7 linked regions of the Homo sapiens genome follow. The protein of the gene in region 5 purifies or fractionates together with the protein of the main gene of each other region. This does not show direct contact. Each region holds a gene or a part of one and is shown on either strand. Other genes may lie near its edges.

What was found.
Region 1: the proteins of DBNL (region 5) and LRSAM1 fractionate together in Homo sapiens (co-fractionation; one large-scale study listed by BioGRID). This does not show direct contact.
Region 2: the proteins of DBNL (region 5) and MAP7D1 purify together in Homo sapiens (affinity purification with mass spectrometry; one large-scale study listed by BioGRID and IntAct). This does not show direct contact.
Region 3: the proteins of DBNL (region 5) and PPME1 fractionate together in Homo sapiens (co-fractionation; one large-scale study listed by BioGRID). This does not show direct contact.
Region 4: the proteins of DBNL (region 5) and SH3PXD2B purify together in Homo sapiens (affinity purification with mass spectrometry; one large-scale study listed by BioGRID and IntAct). This does not show direct contact.
Region 6: the proteins of DBNL (region 5) and ECI2 purify together in Homo sapiens (affinity purification with mass spectrometry; 3 studies listed by BioGRID and IntAct, with this or other methods). This does not show direct contact.
Region 7: the proteins of DBNL (region 5) and NEURL4 purify together in Homo sapiens (co-immunoprecipitation; 6 studies listed by BioGRID and IntAct, with this or other methods). This does not show direct contact.

Annotation. Positions count from the first base shown.
Region 1 is NC_000009.12:127,500,010-127,503,509, forward strand, and holds the end of LRSAM1 (E3 ubiquitin-protein ligase LRSAM1), read left to right. Parts: intron 1-1,000; coding exon 1,001-1,134; intron 1,135-2,764; coding exon 2,765-2,890; 3' UTR 2,891-3,490; downstream 3,491-3,500.
Region 2 is NC_000001.11:36,169,660-36,173,159, forward strand, and holds part of MAP7D1 (MAP7 domain-containing protein 1), read left to right. Parts: intron 1-1,311; coding exon 1,312-1,656; intron 1,657-1,853; coding exon 1,854-1,922; intron 1,923-2,804; coding exon 2,805-2,968; intron 2,969-3,500. UniProt on the Homo sapiens protein: Microtubule-stabilizing protein involved in the control of cell motility and neurite outgrowth. Facilitate microtubule stabilization through the maintenance of acetylated stable microtubules.
Region 3 is NC_000011.10:74,233,789-74,237,288, forward strand, and holds part of PPME1 (protein phosphatase methylesterase 1), read left to right. Parts: intron 1-2,112; coding exon 2,113-2,178; intron 2,179-3,500. UniProt on the Homo sapiens protein: Demethylates proteins that have been reversibly carboxymethylated. Demethylates PPP2CB (in vitro) and PPP2CA. Binding to PPP2CA displaces the manganese ion and inactivates the enzyme.
Region 4 is NC_000005.10:172,448,026-172,451,525, reverse strand, and holds part of SH3PXD2B (SH3 and PX domain-containing protein 2B), read left to right. Parts: intron 1-3,500. UniProt on the Homo sapiens protein: Adapter protein involved in invadopodia and podosome formation and extracellular matrix degradation. Binds matrix metalloproteinases (ADAMs), NADPH oxidases (NOXs) and phosphoinositides.
Region 5 is NC_000007.14:44,051,202-44,054,701, forward strand, and holds part of DBNL (drebrin-like protein), read left to right. Parts: intron 1-564; exon of another isoform or gene 565-628; coding exon 629-741; intron 742-1,665; coding exon 1,666-1,740; intron 1,741-3,500. UniProt on the Homo sapiens protein: Adapter protein that binds F-actin and DNM1, and thereby plays a role in receptor-mediated endocytosis.
Region 6 is NC_000006.12:4,125,576-4,129,075, reverse strand, and holds part of ECI2 (enoyl-CoA delta isomerase 2), read left to right. Parts: intron 1-1,244; coding exon 1,245-1,314; intron 1,315-2,838; coding exon 2,839-2,941; intron 2,942-2,956; exon of another isoform or gene 2,957-3,500. UniProt on the Homo sapiens protein: Able to isomerize both 3-cis and 3-trans double bonds into the 2-trans form in a range of enoyl-CoA species. Has a preference for 3-trans substrates.
Region 7 is NC_000017.11:7,322,836-7,326,335, reverse strand, and holds part of NEURL4 (neuralized-like protein 4), read left to right. Parts: coding exon 1-81; intron 82-622; coding exon 623-695; intron 696-862; coding exon 863-1,127; intron 1,128-1,355; coding exon 1,356-1,537; intron 1,538-1,855; coding exon 1,856-1,941; intron 1,942-2,065; coding exon 2,066-2,228; intron 2,229-2,323; coding exon 2,324-2,522; intron 2,523-2,612; coding exon 2,613-2,689; intron 2,690-2,772; coding exon 2,773-2,851; intron 2,852-3,212; coding exon 3,213-3,388; intron 3,389-3,469; coding exon 3,470-3,500. UniProt on the Homo sapiens protein: Promotes CCP110 ubiquitination and proteasome-dependent degradation. By counteracting accumulation of CP110, maintains normal centriolar homeostasis and preventing formation of ectopic microtubular organizing centers.

The sequences.
Region 1 (3,500 bases), on a different chromosome or scaffold from region 5:
GGAAGGGAACGAGGGATAGAGTCAAGGAAGTGGGTGGCTCACGTTGCATGATAGAAAAAGAGACTTAGCAGCCGGGCACGTTGGCTCACGCCTGTAATCCCAGCGCTCTGGGAGGCTGAGGTGGGCAGATCACCTGAAGTCAAAAGCTTGAGACCAGCCTGGCCAACATGGTGAAACCCCACCTCTACTAAAGATACAAAAATTAGCCTGTCGTGATAGTGGGCACCTGTAATCCCAGCTACTCGGGAGGCTGAGGAAGGAGAATTGCTTGAACCTGGGAGGCAGAGGTTGCAGTGAGCCGAGATCGCGCCACTGAACTCCAGCCTGGGTGACAGAGCGAGACTGTCTCAAAAAAAAAAAAAAAAAGAGACTTAGCATTTTGTAAGGGCTGCTTCTGATGTCTTAGCAGGGGATGCTGACTCCAGGGCAGAGCAGCCAGCATGCTGGGGACTCTGTGGGGCTGGGGGCAGGGGAACAGCCTTGCGGGGGGCCTCTCATTCTGCTCCCCTGGGTCACCTGATGGGCAGCAGCCCATCCTGTCTCCTGGGCAACCAGGTGGAGAAGCCAAGAGCTGGCCCTTCACTGAGAGCTCCTGCCCCAGGGATCTGCAGCTGCATCACCAGATGGCCACATGGCCCTGGGTTGAGTGACTCCCCGTCTCTGAGCCTCAAATGTCTCATCTCTGAAAGTGCCAAGCCCTACTTGCAGGGTGGCTATGAAGCGTCCCGGGGACATTAGAGATCAGAGGACCCACTTAACAAGCGCTGCGGCCATCCCTGCAGAGAGAGACTTCACTCCCATTCTGCAGATGGGAAATGAGGCTCAGAGAAGAGAAGAAGAGAGTGTGTGGCAAGGAGAGCACTTCCCTCAGATCTGAGAGCAGAGGCTCCCCCACCCTCCAGCTCACTCACCATGGGGATGGGCAGGGCCACAATGAGCCCCCAGGGGTTAGGGTCAGCGGAGATGACCCTGGCTCAGTCTGTCTGTCTGGTCCCCACAGAGCTGAAACCACCAATGGGTGAGGTCGTCACCCCTACGGCCCCCCAGGAGCCTCCTGAGTCTGTGAGGCCATCCGCTCCCCCTGCAGAGCTGGAGGTGCAGGCCTCAGAGTGTGTCGTGTGCCTGGAACGGGAGGTAAGTCCGGGGCCCTCCCCACCCGCCTGCCCTGCCTGTGGCCACCCTCCTCAAATTCTGCAGGTACAGGGTTGTCTCTGAACGTGTTTTCTCCAGTTCTCTAAGTAGACTGTGCTCATCTAGAAAGAAGGCAGGAAATAAAGATGACCCCTGGTCCCATGACCCAAATATGAGCTGCGCTCACATCATTTTCCGGACCTTTTTCTTTTTGTTCCTACTTAATAAATACATTAGGAAAAAATTTCCCAAATCATGAAATATCAACAACATGATTTACCCTGCAGAGGCTTTAGAAAATCATCTTTTGGCCAGGCATGGTGGCTCACGCCTGTAATCCCAGCACTTTTGGAGGCCAAGGCAGGTGGATCACCTGAGGTCAGGAGTTTGAGGCCAGCCTGGCCAACATGGTAAAACTCCATCTCTACTAAAAATACAAAAATCAGCCAGGCGTGGTGGTGGGCGCCTGTAAGCCCAGATACTTGGGAGGCTGAGGCAGGAGAATCGCTTGAACCCGGGAGGCAGAGATTGCAGTGAGCCAAGATCCCACCACTGCACTCCAGCCTGGCAGACAGATCGAGATTCCATCTCAAAAAAAAGAAAAAATCATCTTTTAAAAATTCATTAACACTTACTCTAAAAATTACACAGAGCAGTGAATGAAATACAAATCCTCCTTTGCCTCCACTGAGGGATCCTACTTAGAAAAGCAGCCATGTTTGCAGTTTGATGATTCCAGGGTCTCCCGTTGACCTGACTCATGCCATGATATGGATGGACCTATTGGTTCCAAATATAATCCCTGTTCTGGGGCCCTTGGCATTCCAGACAGCTTTGAGCGGAGCTTGGATCAGTTCCTGAAAGCAGGAGATGCTGAGGCAAAGTGTGGTCCTGAGTCAGTGGCTGCTGCTCCGGGTTGGGATTGTTTGTAGACTGAGGAGTTCAGGGCCTGGGCAAGTGCATCAACAAGAAAGAAGCCTGAACACCCTGCGTGCCCTCCGGCAGGGGCCGGCGGAATAGGCCTCCGTCGCCTGTCCAGAGCGCAGGAATATAATCCCCAGTTTTATTTAAGAAAGAATCAGTTGGGGCATTTATATGGGTATTTATATTTTTTACAAACTATAGAGAAATAGACAGCAAACTGCTAACAGAAGGCCTAGGTTACCTGTTTCGGCCGTGCCTGTTCTGTTTCTGTGGTGGTCAAATGCCCGAAGGCCCCACTATCAGGCGTTTATGGTAAAGATGCTAAAGAATAATGAAGGGGGCCGGCATGGTGGCTCACGCCTGTAATCCCAGCACTTTGGGAGGCCGAGGCGGGCAGATCACTTGGGGTCAGGAGTTCGAGACTAGCCTGACCAACATGGTGAAACCCCATCTCTACTAAAAATACAAAAAATTTAGCCAGGTATGGTGGTGCACGCCTGTAGTCCCAGCTACTTGGGAGGCTGAGGCAGGAGAATCACTTAAACCCGGGAGGCTGAGGTTGCAGTGAGCTGAGATCCCACCACTGCACTCCAGCCTGGGCAACAGAGTGAGACTCTGTCTCAAAAAAAAAAAAAAAAAAAAAAAAGACGGGCCTGGGACTCCTGGAACCCGGTAGGGCCAGCCACATGCTCCCGCTCTCCCTCCCCAGGCCCAGATGATCTTCCTCAACTGTGGCCACGTCTGCTGCTGCCAGCAGTGCTGCCAGCCACTGCGCACCTGCCCGCTGTGCCGCCAGGACATCGCCCAGCGCCTCCGCATCTACCACAGCAGCTGAGTGCTGCCCGCCCACCTGGGCCTGGTCCTAGCCCTGCCTCGGCCACTGTGAGCCCCGGGCTCCTGCTCAGCCTTGTGCCAGCCAGACTCGTATGAGGCTCCCCCCTGCCCTGGGCCCCTTCCCCACTGCCCAGGAGCCCCCATCCTAAGCTCCAAGCATGTCTGGGCCAGGCAGAGGTGCTCCTCATCCATGACACCACCAGTCTGAATGGTCCTGGGGGCTGGGGCTGGAGAGGCCGCTGCACCACCACCCGAGCCTGGGAGCCAGCGTCCCAGCCTAATCACGGATCTGCTGCCTCCCAGCTGTCTTGACTGAAGGCCACCGCCCCTGCAGGAGCTTGGGTCCTCATCTGGGGGCCATGCACAGGCCCGTCCCACCCTGCATGTGGGAAGGGAGCAGGAGGGCCTGGCTGGGTGAGGGGAGGCCTTCCTGGGAAGGCGTGTGGTGCAGGCCTGTGCTCACAGTGGCACCAGCAACCCTGGGTCTCCCTCTCTGCTGCTCCCCAGAACCCCGGGGCCCTCCTGCTCTCCACAACTGTCCCTCCTTACCCCATGTAGCTCGATCCGAAGCAGGAGTGTCAATAAACCTGTCTTCAGTGCGCTTCTGGCCT
Region 2 (3,500 bases), on a different chromosome or scaffold from region 5:
TGCCTGGATGGTAGCAGCAGATGGCACCAGGGCTCAACATACAGAAGCTTCTGTTTGGGAGACCAGGAGGCTTCATAAGACCAACAGGGAGTGCTGTTTGCTGGCTGGCATGTGGATAGTGCCAGGCACCTTGCTGACATTCCCTACTAGCTTGGGCTTGTTATCCCCATTTTACAGGTATCAAAACTGAGGCTGAGCCAGGCATGGGCCTGTAATCCCAGCTACTTGGGAGACTGAGGCAGAAGGATCTCTTGAACTCAGGAGTTTGAATCCAGCCTGGGCCACATAGCAAGACCCTATCTCTTAAAAAATAAAAATTTAAAAAAAGAGACTTAAAGGAACTAACTAGACCCTTGAAAAATTCACTAGCAGCAAGTAGACTTGGGGGGAAACAAAACAAAACAAAACAAAAAAACCTGAGGCTGAGAGAGGTTGACTGGCTTGTCCATGGTTGTCTGCTGGGGAAACAAGCCCTCTCTTCCCATCTTCCTCATCTGACTGACTCTGAAGCCTGTCTCTCAATTGCCCCACATGTGTATATGTCAAATCGTGTGGCTCCCTTACTTCACTTCGATGTCTTTTACAGGATTCCTACAATAGTCATGTCTTAAAAGCAGAAATTTCGGTGTGGCTTGGGGAAAAAAGATTATAAAGTGGACGTAGCTTGTTGCCAATGGAATCTTCACAGCAAAGCATTCCACTAGAGCCCATACTTACGTCCTTCCTCTTGGTCAGTCCCATGTGCCCAGCACTGGCACCCTCTGTGAACAGACCTTGGGTTGGGCACAGTCACCCAGAAGTAAAGCAGAAAGGAGAGGGAGGCAGACATGGAAACAATCAGTGCATTTGGTGCACGAATAAGTGCTACAAGCTTGTTCTCAGCTTTTCCAACACACCCTGCTCCATTCTGCCCCTTCGCATATACTCTTCTCTGCCAACACCTCTCCTCCTTGCTTTGCTGACTCCAGCTTATCCTTCGGATCTCAGCTTGGTTGTTACTTCTTCAGCAAGCCCTCCCCATATAGGTTAACTATCTCTGCTTTGCTGCCCCAGACATAGTATTTATTCTCTACTGTAGTTGCCTAGCTATTTGTCTGTCTGCCCTGCTAGAGGGTAAGCGCCACAGAGGCAGGGATCATGGCTATTTTCTCACCATTATATCATGAGTATCTGGAACAGGGCCCGGCACATAGAAATAACTCAAACATAAGTGAATGAAGAAGTCGGTTGAACAAGGGAGAGGGCCACATATGGGGCTGATGGCACAGATGAGCAATCTGACCTCTCTCCTCTCTTGTGTTGGTCTTTCAGCTGTGGTCGCCAGGACCCCCCCAGAGCCAAGACCTTCTCCAGAAGGTGACCCTTCCCCCCCACCACCACCAATGTCAGCCCTGGTCCCCGACACTCCCCCGGACACCCCTCCTGCCATGAAGAATGCCACTAGCTCTAAGCAGCTCCCACTGGAACCAGAGAGCCCCTCAGGGCAGGTCGGGCCTAGGCCAGCCCCCCCGCAGGAAGAGTCCCCTTCCTCTGAAGCAAAGAGCAGAGGACCCACCCCACCAGCCATGGGCCCACGGGATGCCAGACCTCCTCGAAGGAGCAGCCAGCCATCTCCAACAGCAGTGCCAGCCTCCGACAGCCCTCCCACCAAGCAAGGTGTGTGTAATGACCCCGGCCTGGGCCTAAACCTCTTGGCTCAGGGTCCTGGCCCTGGATCATGCCAACTGAAAGAGTCCTGTTTGCCCTAGAGGAGATAAAGAAAGGATGGGGTGAGGCCCGGAGGGAGGGATCTGAGGCTGACTCCTCTTTGGGGACAGCCTTTTGACCTGTCTGTTCTTGTTCCCTCTGCTCAGAGGTGAAGAAGGCAGGAGAGAGACACAAGCTGGCAAAGGAGCGGCGAGAAGAGCGGGCCAAGTACCTGGGTGAGTGAGCAGGAAGCCTCATCATCTTCTTCATCGTCATCATCAGCATCCTATTAATAACACCAACAGGCTGGGGCGCAGTGGCTCACGCCTGTAATCCCAGCACTTTGGGAGGCCGAGGCGGGCGAATCACCTGAGGTCAGGAGTTTGAGACTAGCCTGACCAATGTGGAGAAACCCTGTCTCTACTAAAAATACAAAAAATTAGCCAGGCATGGTGGCACATCCCTGTAATCCCAGCTACTCGGGAGACTGAGATAGGAGAACTGCTTGAACCTGGGAGGCGGAGGTTGTGGTGAGCCGAGATTGTGCCATTGCACTCCAGTCTGGGCAACAAGAGCAAAACTCCGTCTCAAAAAAAAAAAAAAAAAAAAAAAACCAACACTTCTGCAACACTTAATTATGTGCACTGTGCTAAGAGCAGGACACACATCTAATTTAATCCTCAACCCATTTTGAGGAGGAAACAGAGGCTCAGAGAGATGAAATCATTTGCTTAAGCCACACAGCTAGTAGAGTAGCTGACATTCAGACCCAGAAGCCTCCTGCCACCCCAAATCCCATGCTCTTAATCACAGTATGTGGACATCTGTCTGGTAGGCCCCCCAGGTCAGATGGGGATCTTGCACTCAAGCATTCATTTCTCCTTCAGCCCTGAGAGCCCATAAGGCCAATGGAGGAGAAATAGGCCTCTCCTGAGTCCTGTCTTCAGTAAGCCTCTCAATTTGAGGGGGTTGTCTCAGACTGAAAGCTCCACCTAAGCAGGCGGGAGAAAGACCCACCCAGGGCATGGGTAGCAGGGCTGGCCACTTGGAGGAAATGTCCTTGGCCCAGGCCTTCTGCAGAACCCTTCACACACGCCACTGGGCTCCTTTGTCCACAGCGGCCAAGAAGGCAGTGTGGCTGGAGAAGGAGGAGAAGGCCAAGGCGCTGCGGGAGAAGCAGCTCCAGGAGCGCCGGCGCCGGCTGGAGGAGCAACGTCTTAAAGCCGAGCAACGCCGTGCAGCCCTGGAGGAACGGCAGCGGCAGAAGCTCGAGAAAAACAAGGTGCGGGATGGGTCTCCGTGAATCCATGTACACGTGTGCTCACCGTCTGCATACTGGTGCAGTGTGTACACACATCCATGTTCACGGCTCTGCCTTATCTGTGTCTATGTGGTCCTATTTGTGTTCACATCTACAGTTGTGTCCCTGTGTTAGAATATCTGGGCACCTGTACAACTGCAGGCACATTTGCTTCTGAATGTGCCACTGTAGGCCCCTGTAACTGTTTACTGTCAGTACCTGTGTTCGTACATGTACCCCATGTGTCTGTATGTATGCAGGTATGCATCTGTGTGAGCGTGCCTAGCTCTGTGACATGGGTAAAGCCCTAGCTTGAGTGCTGGTGAGGAAATGAAGGAAATGGCCACCTGGCCCTACCTGGGAGGGCCTCAGGCTAGAGGGAACACATAGCCCCAAGGTCAGGACCCTCAGTGCCTGAGATGTGGCCTTGCCTGGGAGCCCCAGGTAGGGGGAGTCCACCCAATCCTCAGAGAATCAACTCATGCACTCAGGAAATGACTCAGGAACAGTGAAA
Region 3 (3,500 bases), on a different chromosome or scaffold from region 5:
TTCAGCCTGAACAACAGAGTGAGACCTTGTCTCGAAACAAAACAAAAAAGTTAGGGGAAACCTGGGCTTTGAGGTCAGACAGATACAAATTTGCATCTTGGTTACACCACTCTGGCTGTTCTGAGGAAAATCAAATAGAAGAAGTGGGGAATGAGGTGTGAAGTTGGTTAGGAGACTGTTATAGTAAAGGAGAGTAATAATGGTAAACATAGACGAGGATGGCAACAGAGGAAGAGAGTCATTTTTTAATGTATTTTCGAGGTAGAACTGACAGGACTGGTTTATGGATTGGATGTTGGGAGAGAGACGGGGAAGGGCAGGAAGGGACTTAAGGATGACTTCTAGGTTTTTAGCCCAAGCAATTGGGTGAATGGTAGAAACAGAAAGAGGTAGATATGGGAGCAAATAAGGGGCAGAGAATCAGTTTTGTTTGGATAAACTCAAATGCTTATTACATATGTAAGTAGAAATGTTAAGTAGGCAGTTGTATATACTAGTTAGAAGAGGCTGAACTAGAGATAAATTGGAGAATCGTCATCACATAGTTAATATTTAAAAGTGAAAGATTGAATGTAAAGACCTAGGAACTTGATATTGATAGGAAAAAGATCCAAGACTGAGTCTTGGGATATTCCACAATATTTAGAGCTTGGGAAGAAGAGGAAGATCCAACAAAGAAACTGAAAAGGCACAGTTGATGAGATAAAAGGAAAACCAGGTGAGTATATTAAGTGTTTGTAGAAGGAGGGAGAGAATAACTGTGTCGGATGCTGCAGAGAGATCAAGTAAGATGAGGACCAAGAAATGACCATTGGAATTGGCATGATAGAGGTGACCTTGACAAAATAAATATCTGAAAATAAATGGGATATAAAAATCATATATAAGTTGGGGAAAGGATGAGAGGTGACAAAGTAGAGAAAGCAAGATAACTCTTTTGAGGAGCTTTGCTGTATAGGAGAGCAGAGAAATGGAGTAATAGGTAGTAGTGAATGTGGCATTGGGAATGTTTTTAAAGGCTGGATAATGGAGTATGCTTGTGACATCCACGAGAGAAAAAAAGTGACACAGAAGAGAGACAGGATAACTGAAAGAAAGAGTATCTTTTCAGAAGCAAGAGGGGATGGGAACTAGTGCCCAAGGTTGGCCTTGATAGGAATAGATATTTCATGTATTAAACAGGCATCAAGGCAGAGTATATTATTACAAGTATTGGTGAATTTGTGGATTCATTTGGTAGTTAAAAGATGAGGTAATAGTTCTGATTGCCTCGGTTTACCATTAAAGTAAGAAATCATGTCATTATCTGAGGAGAGGGGCTTTAAAATTTTGAATGATTTTTTAAACTAAGAAATGAGATTTAAAGAAGTGCTTTCTCCTAGTGGCTTGCTTCAGGCAGTGTTTCCAGTTCACCCTGGGAATGCAGTCATTTTGCTCTGCCTTAGTTGTACTTAGGTGGACAAATGTGAGAAGACTAATTTATTCAGATAGCCTAAGCCCTGTAGCACGGCACACAAGGCCCTGGAGAAGCTGGCGCCTGCCTTCCAATCCTATTCTGTCACGCTCCCCTTTTATCTCCTCCCTGCTTCTCCTTGCACCCAGTTCTCTAAAATCATTATCCTGCCGACTTTCACATCACAGCACCTTTGTACATAATGTGCCCTCTGCCTAGAATGCTCTAACCAACCTCTTTTATTTTCTGGTTAAACTTGTTATCTATACTCCTCAGTTTAGCTGTGACCTCTGGGGAGCTTTCTCTGACCTCCTCATTCATGTTCAAGTGCTTTCTTTGAACCTTGCCTCATTATATTAACATTATATGTGTCTTTTTCTCCCTACCGAATTATGTGCTTTTTGAATACAGGCCTGGCACCTAGTATCCTCTTGATAAATATCTGCAGAACTGAAATGGCTATGATGTTTTTACTTAATTTTTACTTATAAAACCATGTAGCCAGGTGAGTAATAGTGGCAATCTCTATAGTAAGAAACACTGGTGATCACTACTTTTTATTAGGTCTCACATAATCTGTAGAATTATTTATTTGATTCCAATGATGTGATACAATAGATACTGAATAACCTTCTCTCTTCCTTTCTTTTCTTTCCCAGTGTGAAGAGTGGCCAGATTCGAAATCTGGAGTCTGCCCGTGTCTCAATGGTTGGCCAAGTCAAACAGTAGGTCTTACTCTTCCCCCTTGGTCTGGTTAGAGGCGGAAACATGGTGAGGGAATTACAGATTGCTTCTTTTGTCTTACACCAATTCTACCATTCCGGTAAATGCCTTTATTATTTTAAATAATTTTAAAGGTGAGTTCAGTTGGGACAGACATAGATTTTCTTTCGCCTGCCTTCCTTTCTCTCCTTCCTTTCCTTCCCTTTCTTTTTTTTCCTCCTCATTTAATACTGGATTACCTTAGCAAAACTCTGCGTGTTAAAAAGCAAATCCCAGAGCATAGACATTACAAATTATGTTAACCTTAGTGATAGCAGCTGAGTTTCATTCTAGTAACAGTCTCCTTCTAAGCCAAACCTGGCTGTGAGGGAATTATAATAAAAAAGCTCTGGCATAGCCTGAGTGAAAGCCAGATTCTAAGAGTGAGCTAAGATTATTTAGCCCAATTGATCTTTCCTGATAGAATTACATGGCATTCTGGGTATTGCTGTATAGTCACAAAATAAACTTTAGATGAATTGAGAAAATGTTGCCCAACAGAACAGACAGAAGTTAGATGAAAATGATAATGGCTTTGAGTGCTTACTATTTGCCAGGCACTGTGCAAGGTATTTTATATGCACTGTCTCATTTTTAAAACCTTATATTATGGAAAAATTTTGCACATATAAAAGAAGAGTGATACAGTGGATGGACCCCAGTGTTCCCATTGTCCATTTTCAATGGTTATTAACCCATAACCATGTCTCATTTGTTTCATCTGTGCCCCTATGTATTTCCCCTAGTCACAAAATATTTTGAAGCAAATTCCAAACAAATATAATTTCCTCTGCAAGATTTTCATATGATCTAAAAATAAGGGCTCTTTAAACATCATCACGATGACATTATTACACGTAAAAAAATTGGCAATTCTTTAATATCATCAAATATCTAATCAATATTTACATTTCTGATTGTCTCATAAATAATTTTTTACAATTAAAGTCAAAATCAAAATAAGTAGATAGCAATTGGTTGATCCACCTCTCATGCATCTTTTAATCTAAGGTTCCACTTCTGTCTCCCTCTTTTTTTTGATTCCTTGCAATTTATTTCTTGAGGAAACCTTGTTTGCCCCATAGAATTTCCCATGATCTGGATTTGCTGATTGAATTCTCAGGCCATAATTTAACATATTCCTTTGTTCCTTATATTCTGTGTAAATAGTTAAATCTAGAAGCTTCATCGGGTTCAGGTGTTTTGTTTGCAAGAATACTTGATAGGTGATGTTGCGTACTGCCATCAGGAAGTACATAATGTCTGGTTGTCTTTTTTTTTTTTT
Region 4 (3,500 bases), on a different chromosome or scaffold from region 5:
GATCATTCTTTGTTTCAGGGCTGTCCTGTGGATTGCAGGATGTTTAGCAGCTTCCCTGGCTTCTACCCAGCTAGTTATCCCCCTTCCCAATTGTGACACCCAAAAGGCCTCCAGGCATTGATTGCTGCATGTCCTCTAGGGGGCAGCACCACACACATTCCCACCCCAGCCACTGCGCCATAGACTATAAAGTCAGTTTTTGAGAGTCCTCTTCACTACGCCCCCTAATTTCCCACTACCCCTCTCCCCATTTGCAGCCATCTCGGCCACTACCTGCTCATCACTCACTTGCCTGTGAGGGACAGGGTCACAGGTGCTGTAGATGTCATTGGAGAACTGCACCCGGAGTTCAGGGCTGCCCATCAGGGCTGGGCCACCTGCTCCCTCTGAAATGGTGCCTTCTCCATGATCAGAATGGCGTCCTCTCCAGCCCCAGCCTCAGTCACCCGCAGGCAGAGACATCATCCATGGGCCCAGGGGCAGAGCCACAGGCCAGGTCTGGAGAATGCAGGGCCAGAAGCTCCAGGTGCCTGTGAGATCCTGAGAGGCTGATGACAATGAACCATGATATTGTTTGGAGAGCCTTTCCCTGGAGCCACTGCCCTCTGTTGGAAGCAGGGAGATGAAGATTTGGGGAGCTCCTGCCTTTCTCTGCCAGCATCTTTCCTGCACTAGAGCCCGAGGGCTTGGGGATGAATGGAGAGGGGCTTTTGAGGGTGACATCCTGGGAGACCCTCCCCAGCTAGCTTGTCTTCAGCTTGGGGGGAGGAAGAAGAGCTCCAGGTAGGATTTGTGGGTTTTATTTGGATCACCCCATTTCCCGCACTGGAGAGGGATGTACAGAAGCATTAGTGTCTCGGCAGCAGGAGCCTGGAGATGCTGGCCTGCTCTGTCTCAAGATCTTTAAATGTTAAGAGGAGCAGGATGGTCGGAATATTTATGGCAGCAAGAATAACAGTGGTCAAAGTGTCCTCGGTAACCTGAGCGGGGCACTGGGTCCCTTTCAAATGGGTATATTTTCAATATAGTAATACAATATTCTGCACATATATAGATACATAGAATAAAATAGCTATCTATATCTATATACCTTCCAAGTCTTCACATCTCTATATTTTGCCAATTTGTTTCAAAACTTTTTTGTTTTTATTTTTAAGAAATAAAGCATCGCAGATGCAAACCCCCCGGACGCCCTCCCCGATGCTGCCCCTCCCCCATAAAACCACTATCCTGCATTTGATGTTGATCATTCCCATGCACTTATAAAAAATAGACTAATAGATAGGATTTTTTTTAACAGCTTTCTTGAGGTATAATTTACATACCATAAAATTCACCCATTGTAAGTGTGCAATTCACTTATTTTTAAAGTAAATTTGCAGAGCTATGCAACCGTCACCACAATGCAGTATTATAACATTTCCATCATCCCCAGAAAGATCCCCCACGCCCATTTGCCATCAATCCCCTTCCCACCACAGCCCATGGACCTTTTAATGTTTTTCCCTTTTTAACATTCCCTAAAATCTTGTATTGTCGTGAATGTTTTAAAACTATAAATAAGCACTTTTGAGATCTATGTCGATCCAGCTAGCTCCAGTTCGTTTTAACTGTCGCTTACTATGGCATTGATGAACATGCCCCTGTTTTTTCAAGCTCGTGCCGGGAACTGTTAGGATGTTTCCAGCAGTTGACTTTCTTACAGCTGCCTCCTTGCACAGGGTCCCACGGTCTTGGGGTTTGTGTGTTTTCAACTTTGCACTTACATCCTCAGGGTTCCCTTTGCTCTCTGTTCTTGCTAACACTCCGTATCATCAGACTTTTCAGTCTTTGCCAATCCAATAGGTGCAAAAGTGGTGCTTGTTCACACCAGTGAGGTTGAGCAGCTTTTCATACCTTTATCGGCTATCTGAGTTTCCTCTTCCGTGAATTACCAGTTTTTGTCCTTTGCCTGTTTTTCGATATATTGGGTTATTTGTCTTTTATTGATTGGCGGGATTTATTTATACATTTGGGATACTAATCCTTCAGGTAATTACATTAGTTTTTTGTTTTCCCCTGGAGGAGTCTGCAGATTCAGAGAGGTGGAGGCATGTGCCTGAGGTCACACAGCAAGGAGTGGCTGCGTGGGAATTGGGCTACATGCCCTTGTGTCTGGGAGAAACATAGGGGGATCCTGTGATTCCACCACGGAGCTGACTGACCTTGGATGGGTCACTTAGGCTTCTGGACCCCGGTTTCCCCTTATATGAGATACTGGGGCCATCCCAGGCCCTTCTCTGATCTCACCATTTATTCAGCCCCGACTGAAGAAGTGCAAGCCACCGCCAGCCCTTAGTCATTCTCACCCCAGGAAGCTCTGGGTAGATGGTGCCCCTGGAGTGATGGCTCTGCAGGCTCTGTACTGCCAGCCCTGAAACCTCCCTCTTTGATTTGCCAGGCTCCAGAAGCCTAGGGGTCACTGTGCTGAGCAGCTGAGTTTGGAAGAGTAGATTGCGCCCTTAGTAGGCATTACTGGCATTCTCAGTCCCTTAAGGGGCCTCCAGCAGGTGAGCCCAATGGTCTAGAACAAACCATGGATCTGCTGCCCAAATTAGCTTCATTATCTTCTCCAGCCCCCAGTTTCCTCCCTCTCCTCCTATCCCTGGCACCTGTTTTGTGGGAACACAGAGGGCAGGGCAGCAAAGTTGAGTGGAAAGAACTCGGGTGTTAGAGGTAAACATCTGGGTTCAAGTTCTTCATGGCCTTGGACAACTGGCCGAATGCCCCCCCTTAGTTTTTACATTTGTAAAATAGGTGCAGTGACTTCCTTCTGGGACGATTGTGCAGGCTTTTGGTGATGTATGCACGGAATCTGTGCTCCAGCCCTGCTGCTGGGAAGAATAAAACTGCTAGCACATGTCTTTCCAACCCACCGTTACCTTCATGATGAAAAGACCTGGCTTTGAATTCTCTTCAAGCGCTCCTGAGCGGGGTGACCTTGCACTATGTGAGGATCTGTAAAATGGGAATAGTCATAGTACCTAGCACACAATGCTCAGCCTCATGGGTATAAAAGGCACTCAATAAATCACTTGAACCTGGGAGGTGGAGGTTGCAGTGAGCCGAGATTGCGCCACTTCACTCCAGCCTGGGTGACAAAGGGAGACTCTGTCGGCAAAAATAAAATAAAGGTACTCAATAAATGGTAGTCATGAAAAGTACTATTGATGATAATAATAGTCGTGATCTAAATTTCTGCACCGCTTTCCGGCCTGCTGCCCAGAAGGCACACTATGCAGTTTTCGTGGTCTTTTCATTCAAGAGGCATTCTGGGGGATACCTGCCCCAGGCTGGGCCCATGCTGCTGCTGGGATAGGCCCCCGGGAGCAAGGCAGAGCCATTCCTACCTATTGCACAGGAGAGTTCTTGTCCTCTACTGTGTCTGTGTCACAAGAGTTAGGGCCCTCTTAAGGCCCCTTGGGTAGGTTTTTCTTTAACGACTATTGCTTTCTTTGGAT
Region 5 (3,500 bases):
CCTTATAACCTGGAAAAGTTTGTGAGGGCTAAGCCTCAGTGTCAGGGAGAATTGTTTAGAGCTGCCCACTCCTGTGCTCCCCCTGTCCCCATCACCCTCTCTTCTGGAGTCTGAGGACTGAGCCAGTTACGCCACTGCAGGATGTTCAATCTGGTCTGGCCGTCTGGGTGGCCCTGGAACTTGAGCAGACACAGGTGCAGGCAGTGGTGACTCTACAGGCCCTGCTATTCCGGGCCCTTTTGCAACGTTGTGGCAACAATAAAATTTTGACGTAGCCATCCTCCATTTGGAAGTCTGGTGGCTGGTTTGCCGTGGAAATGACCCTGTTTTTATTTCCAGAATTACCTCTGGGTTTAGAGAAGTGGTTTTTAAACGAGTGTGGGTAAAAAAAATTACCTGAGGTACTTGTCAGAATCGCAGACTTCTAGGTCCCACCCAGCTCTCATCAATCAGTTTAGTGAGGGTGGTGCCCAGGACTCTGATTTTAAACATACCCCTAGAAAGATTCTGATACAGGTAGAGGTGAGAAGCCCTGGTTTAGAAGCAGCTCGGCCTCCCTTCATGGTGGGACCAGGGCCAGCAGGGAATGTCAGGGCCACCCCTGACCTTCACTGTGACTCTGCTGCAGAGGGTGGCCTGGAGGAGATGGTGGAGGAGCTCAACAGCGGGAAGGTGATGTACGCCTTCTGCAGAGTGAAGGACCCCAACTCTGGACTGCCCAAATTTGTCCTCATCAACTGGGTATGTGGAGCCTGTTTCATCTAGGTGTGACCCAGGAAACCCCATTGTCTTCTTTCCTGTTTTGACTTGACTTCAGGAACAAAGTGTTTTACTGGCATGACTTAGTAGATCAATAGAACAGCTCTGAGCTGGTGAATGAGCAGAATAGTTGACAGATTCATTGTGGCCCAAAGAATAACTGTGGCTTTGCTATGCAGAATTCACCTTCCAAGCCTAGAGTTCTTCCTGCAAAATGGATTAAAAGCAGTCACAGGGAGTCCTTGCTCCGTGCTCTTGAGGGTGGTTGTTCTGATGGAGTAGAGAGCCTGAGGGAGTGTTTAGGAGCCTGGGAGTACAGGGACAGGGCCTCCTTGATCCCTTGGTGGGGATCAAGAAAACTCTTGAAGGCTGGGTGGGGTGGCTCACACCTGTCATCCTAGAACTTTGGGAGGCCGAGGTGGGTGGACTGCCTGAGCTCAGGAGTTTGAGACCAGCCTGGGCAACATGGTGAAACCCCATCTCTACTAAAATACAAAAAATTAGCTGGGCATGGCAGCGTGCACCTGTAGTCCCAGCTACTCAGGAGGCTGAGGCAAGAGAATTGCTTGAACCCAGGAGGCAGAAGTTGCAGTGAGCCAAGATTGCGCCACTGTACTCCAGCCTGGGCCACAGAGCAAGACTCCATCTCCAAAAAAAAAAAAAAAAAGAAAATTCATGAAATGCCCCCACAGCGAAAGCCGGTAGCCATCCTGCCCAGGGAGAATCCATGAGCCCCTTGGAGGCATGGGAACTTACCTCACCCATGTGATGCAGTCAGAAGAATAGGTTCTGCTTTGGGGGTTGCAGTTTTCTCTTTTCTGGGACACAGGGTAGATGTTGGGTCCCCAGGGAAGGGAAGTGGCTTTGGGGGAGGCCTGGGTCAACCTGGGCATCCTTGTGTTGCAGACAGGCGAGGGCGTGAACGATGTGCGGAAGGGAGCCTGTGCCAGCCACGTCAGCACCATGGCCAGCTTCCTGAAGGTAAGGCCAGGTGAGGCCCGCTTCACTGGGAACAGGCCTCACAGGCTTGAGGTCTCGCAGGTTCCTGGGTGCGAGCAAGTGGGAATCAGAACTGGAGTTGGGAGTGTGCTCATAGCTAATGCTCTCTGCCTGCCTTTGAGGGCATGACCAGAGGCTGCTTCACTCTCGGTCAGTGAGTGCATGGGAGGTCAGGATGTTGCCAGGGCCACCTACAGGCCTGCCTCAGTGGGGCAGGATAAAGGACTATGCTGGAGCTGGTGCCGTGAGAAGGGTGGGCCCTGGTTCTGTTTTGTTTTATGATCCCTCTAAACAGTTTAGTAATACCGTCAGGATTTGGAGGAAGGGGAGAGTGCCCACCATCTTAGCACGCATGTGCCCTTTTGATGCATTCCTTTCCAGCCCCCTCTACATGGAGTTATGTCAGTCCTATAATAGAACCTTTTTAAATTTTAAAAACTATTTGTAACAAAAGCATTTGTTGGTCACTTGTCAGGTAACTTTTTGCATTTCTCTGGCAAAGGAGACTCAGAATTTTGATTTCTCGTTCTGCCAACATTTCTTCAGCTATACCTCAGTTTCCATCTAGGAGCTGATAAGAGAATTCCCAGCTTATCGATATACAGGTTTGAGTATCCTTTATCTGAAATGCTTAGGACCAGAAATGTTTTGGATTTTTTCAGATTTGGGAATGTTTTCAGTTCAGCATCCAAAATCCGAAATTCTCCAGAATCTGAATTTTTTTTTTTTTTTTTTGAGACTGAGTCTCGCTCCGTTGCCCAGGCTGGAGTGCAGTGGCGTGATCTTGGCTCACTGCAAGCTCCGCCTCCCGGGTTCACACCATTCTTCTGCCTCAGCCTCCCGATTAGCTGGGACTGCAGGCACCCGCCACCACGCCCAGCTAATTTTTTGTATTTTTAGTAGAGACGGGGTTTCACTGTGTTAGCCAGGATGGTCTCGATCTCCTGACCTCGTGATTTGCCCGCCTTGGCCTCCCAAAGTGCTAGGATTACAGGCGTGAACCACCACGCCCAGCCCAGAATCTGAGATTTTTTGAGTGCTGACATAATGCTTAAAGGAAATGTTCATTGGAGCAGTTCAGATTTTGGAATTTTAGGTAAGGGATGCTCAACCTGTATAGCAACAGTGAATGACGTCATGGGTCTGGCTTCTTATGAAGAAATCATTGGCTTACTTTTTGTAGAAAACATGCATGGCATTCTTTTATCAGAGTTTTTTTTAATTGTTTTGTTTTTTGTTTGTTTGTTTGTTTTGAGACAGTCTCACTCTGTCACCCAGGCTGGAACGCAGTGGCACGATCTCGGCTCACTGCAACCTCTGCCTCCCAGGTTCAAGTGATTTTCCTGCCTCAGCCTCCTGAGTAGTTGGGATTACAGGTGCCTGCCACCATGCCCGGCTAAGTTTTCTATTTTTAGTAGAGATGGTGTTTCCCTGTGTTGGCCAGGCTGGTCTGGAATCCCTGAGCTCAAGTGATCTGCCCTCTTCAGCTTCCCAAAGTGCTGGGATTACAGGCGAGAGCCACCGCACCTGGCCCAGAGTTTTTATAAATTGATATATAATAGTTGTACATATTTTTTGCATACATGTCATATTTTGATACCTGTATACAATGTATACGATGAATCAGGGTAATTAGCATGTTCATCACCTCAAACATTTATCTTTTCTTTGTGTTGGGAACATTACAATTTTTCTCTTCTAGCTAATTTGAAATACACAAAATTATTGTTAACTATAATTTC
Region 6 (3,500 bases), on a different chromosome or scaffold from region 5:
CATCTCTTAATCCTGGTCTCACCAGTTGGAAGGAAGGAACCCTGATAATCCATCTCCTAATCCTGGTCTCACCAGTCGCCCTGCTGTGTGGTGTTATCATAACTATAATAATGATAGAATGAGTTCCTTATCACTTCCCTCAGGAGAAATGCTTAAACGCTTATTCATGTACAGTCATCCCTTGGTATCCGATGGGGATTGGTTCCAGGACCTCCGTGTGGACAACAAAATCCGCGGAACCTGAAGTCCCCCATAAAAAGGCATAATATTTGCATATAACCTCTATATACACTCCCATATACTTTAAATCATCTCTAGAGTTATTATAATACTGAATACAATGTAAATGCTATATTAAATTGTTGTTATACTGTATTGTTTAGGGACTAATGATAAGAGAAAAAGCCTGTACATGTTCAGTATAGATACAGAATTCTTTTCCAGGTATTTTTGATCTGTGATTGGTTGTCCATGGATGTGGAACCCGTGGATACGGAGGGCAGGCTGTTTTATGTAAAGTCCATGTGTCTTTTCCAGTATATTTGTATCTATAAGTATCAGCCCTCTTCCTCATTTCTTTCCCACACTGAAATCTCATCTAAGGTTGAAATTGCACCTGTTTTAAATGCATTAAAAGCTATATAGCTGCTTGTCCAAGATTTTCAGAAATGTTGCTGATTTAAAATTTTGAGCCACCTTCCTTGAATACCATTACAGTGTCTTGAAAATTCCAGCCTTTTGGCAGTCACTAACACTTCCCAGACTGCCAGGGGCTTCCTTGAGGTCACAACAGAGACGTTGCTTTGTAGAAAGTTTTCTCTGACCACCTCCCACTCTGCCCACACTAGATAAGCCTCAGCACCTCCTCTGAGTTCCCTGCTACTTTGTACTTTCCAACCCCCTCCTCATTTGAACATGTTAATTCCAAATTGAACATGTTAAGTCCTCTGTTAATTCCAAAAGCTCAAGGACTATTTCTTTCTTGGTCCCTTTTGGAAAAAAAGTGGTTTATAGCCTGCAGCTCCTGCCATAGCACCAGGTACATAATATGCACCAGGTAACTGTGAAAGGAATAAAAATTCCTTCAGTTATGTTGGTCCACCTTTTTGGTTATAAAATACAACCAAAATAAATGTTAGGCACTTTGCTGAGAGCAAGCTTGCAGCCTGACATTTGTTGAGTCCATTGATTGATGATTCCTGTGTTCAGAGTTCTTTTCTTTTCCTTGTCTTCCCATTACACAGATGTATCATGAAATTATGCGTGCACTTAAAGCTGCCAGCAAGGATGACTCAATCATCACTGTTTTAACAGGTAAGACATTTTCTCAGGCATCCTAATTAAATTTCTATTTTGAGGGGCCTCTTAATAGATAGGAAATTGAGTTAAAAAGCTCTAAGACCTGGAGGCCGAGGCAGGTGGCTCCCGAGGTCAGGAGTTTGAGATGAGCCTGATTAACATGGTGAAACCCCATCTCTGCTAAAAATATAAAAATTAGCCGGGCATGGTGGCACACACCTGTAATCCCAGCTACTCAGGAGGCTGAGGCAGGAGAATCACTTGAACCTGGAAGGCAAAGTTTGCAGTGACCCGAGGTCGCGCCACTGCACTCCAGCTTGGGTAACAGAGTGAGACTCTGTCTCAAAAAAAAAAAAAAAAAAAAAAAAAAAAGGCTCTAAGATCTTTTCCAGTACTGTCATACTCTGATTTATAAATATACAAAAAATGTTTAAAAAAACACAGATACCCACTCCTTCGCAATTACCCAACATCAATTAAGACACATATGTCCACCAAAAGACTTTTACAGGAGCAGACATGGTAACCTGATTTATAACGGCCAAAACCAGAAAACAAATGTTCAAAAACACATGGATGAATAAACAAATTGTTGACTATTTGTACAATGGAATACTCAGCTATAAAATGGAATAAATGATATACACAAGAATGTGGATGCATCTTTAAAACACAGTTCAGCAAAATAAAGACAGGAGTGTACATACTGTATGAGTCCATTTGTAGAAAGTTCTACAGTAGACAAAAGTTCTTCTCTGTGGAAATTGAAGTCAGAAAGTGATTGCCTTGGAGCAGGTGGGGTGGGATAGCTAGGAAGGAGCCTACGGGAAACTTTTGGGGTGATGGAGATGTTCTGTATCTTGTTTTGGATGGTGATCTTGTGGGTATTTAAAATTATTAAAACTCATCTAAATGAACATTTAAAAACTGGTTGTTTTATTGTATATAAATTGTACTTTAATTAAACACACACACTCAGAAACATACTTTCAGTGGCTCTTAGAATAAAGAAAAAACTTCCTCATGGGATCTACAAAGCACTGTCAGGTCTATTCTGCCAGTCCTCATCCTGCACCGACTTCCCCCTGGCTTTCCCTGAGTCAGCTACAGTGGCTCTTACTTCATCTACAGTGGGGATAACCTCTCCAAAGAGCCTTTGCACAGGCTGTTCCTTTGTGTAAACTGTTCTTCCCAGCCCTCTTTTTCTAGCCCACCTGGCCTCTCCTTCAGATCTCAATTCAGTTGTCGCTTCCTTAGGAAAGTTCTTTCCTGAACTCCCTGATTAGACCAACCCTCCTGGTACATACCCTCATTTCATGACGCACCACTCCTCTATTTCAACAGTAGCATTAGCTACATTTATCGGTGTGTTTTTATAGATCAGTGTCCAGCGTACTCACTAGTTTGTAAGTTAGGGCAGGAACCATTGCTCGTTCTCCAATGTATTTCCCTTGCCTAACCATAGAGTTTGGCATGCAGTAGATACTCAAGAATTATAGGATGATTGAATGAGGGATCTGTTGATTTTCTTACTTATAGGAAATGGTGACTATTACAGTAGTGGGAATGATCTGACTAACTTCACTGATATTCCCCCTGGTGGAGTAGAGGAGAAAGCTAAAAATAATGCCGTTTTACTGAGGTAAGAGTTACTGACCTTTGTCTGATCCCAGAGGGCCCGTTCTTAGTCATCAAAGTGGTATTTAGTTGAGCAAAAGTGCAATATCTGCTTCTCTGTGTCAGTGCAGTTAATTGTGACTTTGGACAAGCATATTTCTCTAAACTGCCTCCATCCATAGGTGGGCATTCATTCTTTCTCTTTGACCTCTGTTACCTGTTCATCCTGCTGGTCTCATGAGATTTGACTGGAAAACATAAAAGTGAGCTATAGTTGTAAACAAAATTATCTTGCACTGAGGCAGAGGAATTTAGCAAATTCTCATCCAGCCAGAGGAATGGGAGATTTCCATGAACGCTGAAGGTAGGAGACTCGGAGGAGTCTTGTAAACACAGGAGGAGGTCATGAAGGCTTTTCTCTTTATTCCTGCCAAATCTGTAATTCCCACTTGTTGTGATATTGCAGCATGTGCTCAGTCACCCAACCTAATCTCTAAGACTGCGGCTGGTTTACAGCCCTGAACTCACTGTCCAGAATACAAGATTCAAACCAGGGTTGACCCATAGGTCTCACTGGTTGGTCT
Region 7 (3,500 bases), on a different chromosome or scaffold from region 5:
ATGATGAGCGGCTGTGGAATCCTGACCAATGGCAAGGGCACCCGCCGGGAGTACTGCGAATTCAGTCTGGATGAGTTGCAGGTGAGGGTGGGGCACAGATCCCTGGGCCGCTTTCAGCAGAGCCACAGGTACTCTGTGTCCCTGCCAGGGCACCAAGCAGGGTCTCCTATGTGACCTAGAGGCAGTCCCTGTATCTTCCACCTAAAGGTTCCTTCCTAGAAGCCTGAGTTGCCCAAGAGTTCAGCACTCAGATTTTGGAGTCAGATGGTTGAATTCCTCTTACTGTTTTCCCATTTGTAGTAGCGAACCGGGGCAAGAAGCTTATCCTCTTTGATTGCTCCCCCACCTCCTGCAATCTCTAAAATGAGCCTACGAGTAGTACTTATTCCATAGGCTGAGACTTGTAGAAGCTAATGTCTGTGAGGTGGTTTAACTCAGTGCCTGACTCACGTGGAGCATTGACGAAATGTGGAAATTGTCATGTCTGGAAAACAAGGACCCAGGACCTGTCCTCCAGGGTGGTCTGAGACTCTCACGAATACCTTCTGGAGTTGTTCCTGTGTGGAGTGGGGTGCTGAGCAGGCCTCAGGACTCCTCTAAACTGTTTGTCTTCTTTGATTAGGAGGGTGACCACATTGGCCTCACAAGGAAGTCCAACTCTGCCCTACACTTCTTCATTAATGGTATCGATCAGGGTAAGGGCCGCCCAGAGAGAGCCTCTGGGCCGGGGCTTTCGGTGGGGCTGGGACTGGGGGCTGTACCTCATCCTCCTGCTTCTCTTTGGTGCTTGGCCTCCCTGTGTTTGACTTTCTCCCCTCATTCTCCCTGTCCACTCCCACACCCCCGTACCTTCCTGCCACAGGAGTGGCAACCCCCTTGACGCCCCCAGTGGTGTATGGTGTGGTGGACTTGTACGGGATGGCAGTGAAGGTGACCATCGTCCACAATAACAACCACAGTGACCGTCTCCGCCGAAACAACGCCATCCTGCGGGCGCTGTCCCCCGAGGGTGCTCTCCGCCGTGCTGCCCCTGCCGCCCAGGCAGAACCTGAGCGCCTGCTCTTCCACCCCAACTGTGGGCAGAAGGCAGCCATCACCCACGAGGGACGCACTGCCCTGAGGCCCCAGTATGGCCCATGGGGTGGGGAGAAGCCTGAAGAAGGGATTCTAATGGGGGGGGGGGGGCGGGGCAAGGAAGTGGAAGGCAGAGGGAGCCTGGCGGGGGCAGCTTCCTGGAGGTTGAGCTTTAGTTCTTTGGCTTGGGGCAGTGAGTGTTGGCAGGCATTGCTGGGCTAAGCCTTGGCACATTGAGAGCGTGTGTTGGGGATCTGACTCTCCACTTGCTGTGCCCTCAGTGCCACCGATGACTTCAATCACGGCGTGGTGCTGAGCAGCAGAGCCCTGCGGGATGGAGAGGTGTTCCAGGTGCGCATCGACAAGATGGTGGACAAATGGGCTGGCTCCATTGAAATTGGTGTCACCACCCACAACCCTGCCTACCTCCAGTTGCCCTCCACCATGACCAACTTGCGCTCTGGTGAGCTCCCAGGAAGGGCAGGGACAGGATAGGGTTTTGGGGGGAAGCTATCCCCAAAGCCCTGGCACTTGTTCTGCAGCTCCTTTTTCACTTGTCACTCTTGTGACCACTCATTCAGTGGCTAGAGAGTGTCCCGTGGGCAGGGCTGTGGCTGTCTTGGAAGCTGCAGAGTTTTCTTGTCCTGCTCAGGGAAGAAATCTAGTCATCAAAGAAAAGGCAAGGTGGACTGTGGGCTCGGGAGTCCTGTGGGCGCTGCTGTGGCAAGGAGAGGAGCCCTGCATTTCCCCTCATGTCCCCTCCTGCTCCTTGTCCTCCCAGGGACCTGGATGATGACTGGGAATGGGGTGATGCACAATGGGACGACCATCCTGGATGAATACGGGCACAATCTGGACCGCCTCAAGGTGGGAAAGTGGGTGCGCCGCCTGGCGGCCGCAGCGGGCATCACAAACACCGCGGGGCTGATGCAGGACCAGCCCCGGCAGGAACTCTGCCTGACTCCTCACTCCAGCACCCCCTTCTTCCAAGGCAGGGGACACGGTGGGCGTGGTACGGCGGGAGGACGGGACTCTCCACTTCTTTGTCAATGGGATGACTCAGGGCCCTGCTGCCTGGAACGTGCCCCCGGGCGTCTATGCTGTCGTCGATCTCTATGGCCAGGCGGCCCAGGCCACCATTGTGGACGACGTGGGTGAGGGCCGGGCTGGGCTGGGGCTGGGGGTTAGGGTGGCCTTGGGAGGTCTGAGAGACACCTAGAGACCTGATGGGTGATGTCCACTTTTACAGAGGTGGCTCCAGTTCCTGAACCACTCCCTGAGGGGAACAACCAGGTGTCTCCAAGCTCTCCGTCCTCAGGGGCCGGGGGCTCTGACCTGCGCTTCCATCAGCTGCACGGCAGTAACGCAGTCATCACTAACGGGGGCCGCACCGCCCTCCGCCACAACTGTCGCAGCGAGTTTAATGACGCCATCGTCATCTCCAACCGGTCAGTCTCTCAACTTTCATGTCCCCACCTTCCTCCTGCCCAGCCTCAGCCATGCAAGTAGAGCCTCTCTGATCGCCAGTCTCCTGGCAGGGCCCTGCGGGATGGAGAGCTGTTTGAAATTGTCATTCAGAAGATGGTGGACCGCTGGTCAGGCTCCATTGAGGCTGGTGAGGGCCGTCTGTGTGTGTTGGGGGCTGTTGGATGTCTGTGCCTTGGGGATCGGCCTTGACTTACCCCTGCCTCCTCCCAGGAGTGACTGCTATTCGGCCTGAAGACCTGGAATTCCCCAACACCATGACAGACATTGACTATGACACATGGATGCTGAGGTTGGGCTTCCTGCTTTGGGGACCAGCTTGGGGCTGAGTGGAGCTGGCTGGGATCAGGGAAGCAAGGTTTGGGCCTATGGTGGCTGTGGGTAGTGACAGACCTAGGGGATCTACCTGTCCCCTCCCCTTGAATTCTGGGAAGTCCTGCCCAGGCCCACAGGGGCTCAGTCCTCCTTCATCTTAGGCAGTTCTTGCTTTTTCCTAAGGGGATCCCAGGGACAGAGGAGATAGGATTGGGCCTTACACCCAGATCAAGACACCAGCCCAAGACATTGGAGGGTTCTGACAGACAGGGAGTGGGCAGGGGCCAATGTGAAGTTGAAGTTGGCAGGCTGACTCACCCCTTCTGCCATCCCCCCAGTGGTACAGCCATCATGCAAGACGGTAACACGATGCGCAACAATTATGGGTGTGACCTGGATGCGCTGGGCACAGGTGCACGCATTGGCATGATGCGAACTGCCAAGGGCGACCTGCACTACTTCATCAACGGCCAGGACCAAGGCGCTGCCTGCTCGGGCCTGCCTCCGGGTAAAGGTGACTATGTGGCTTTCAGCCTGCCACCCTCAGCCCAGACCACCTGGCTGTCAGGCTTCTGACCTTCCCTCTCCTCCCCAGAGGTGTATGCGGTAGTCGATCTCTATGGCCA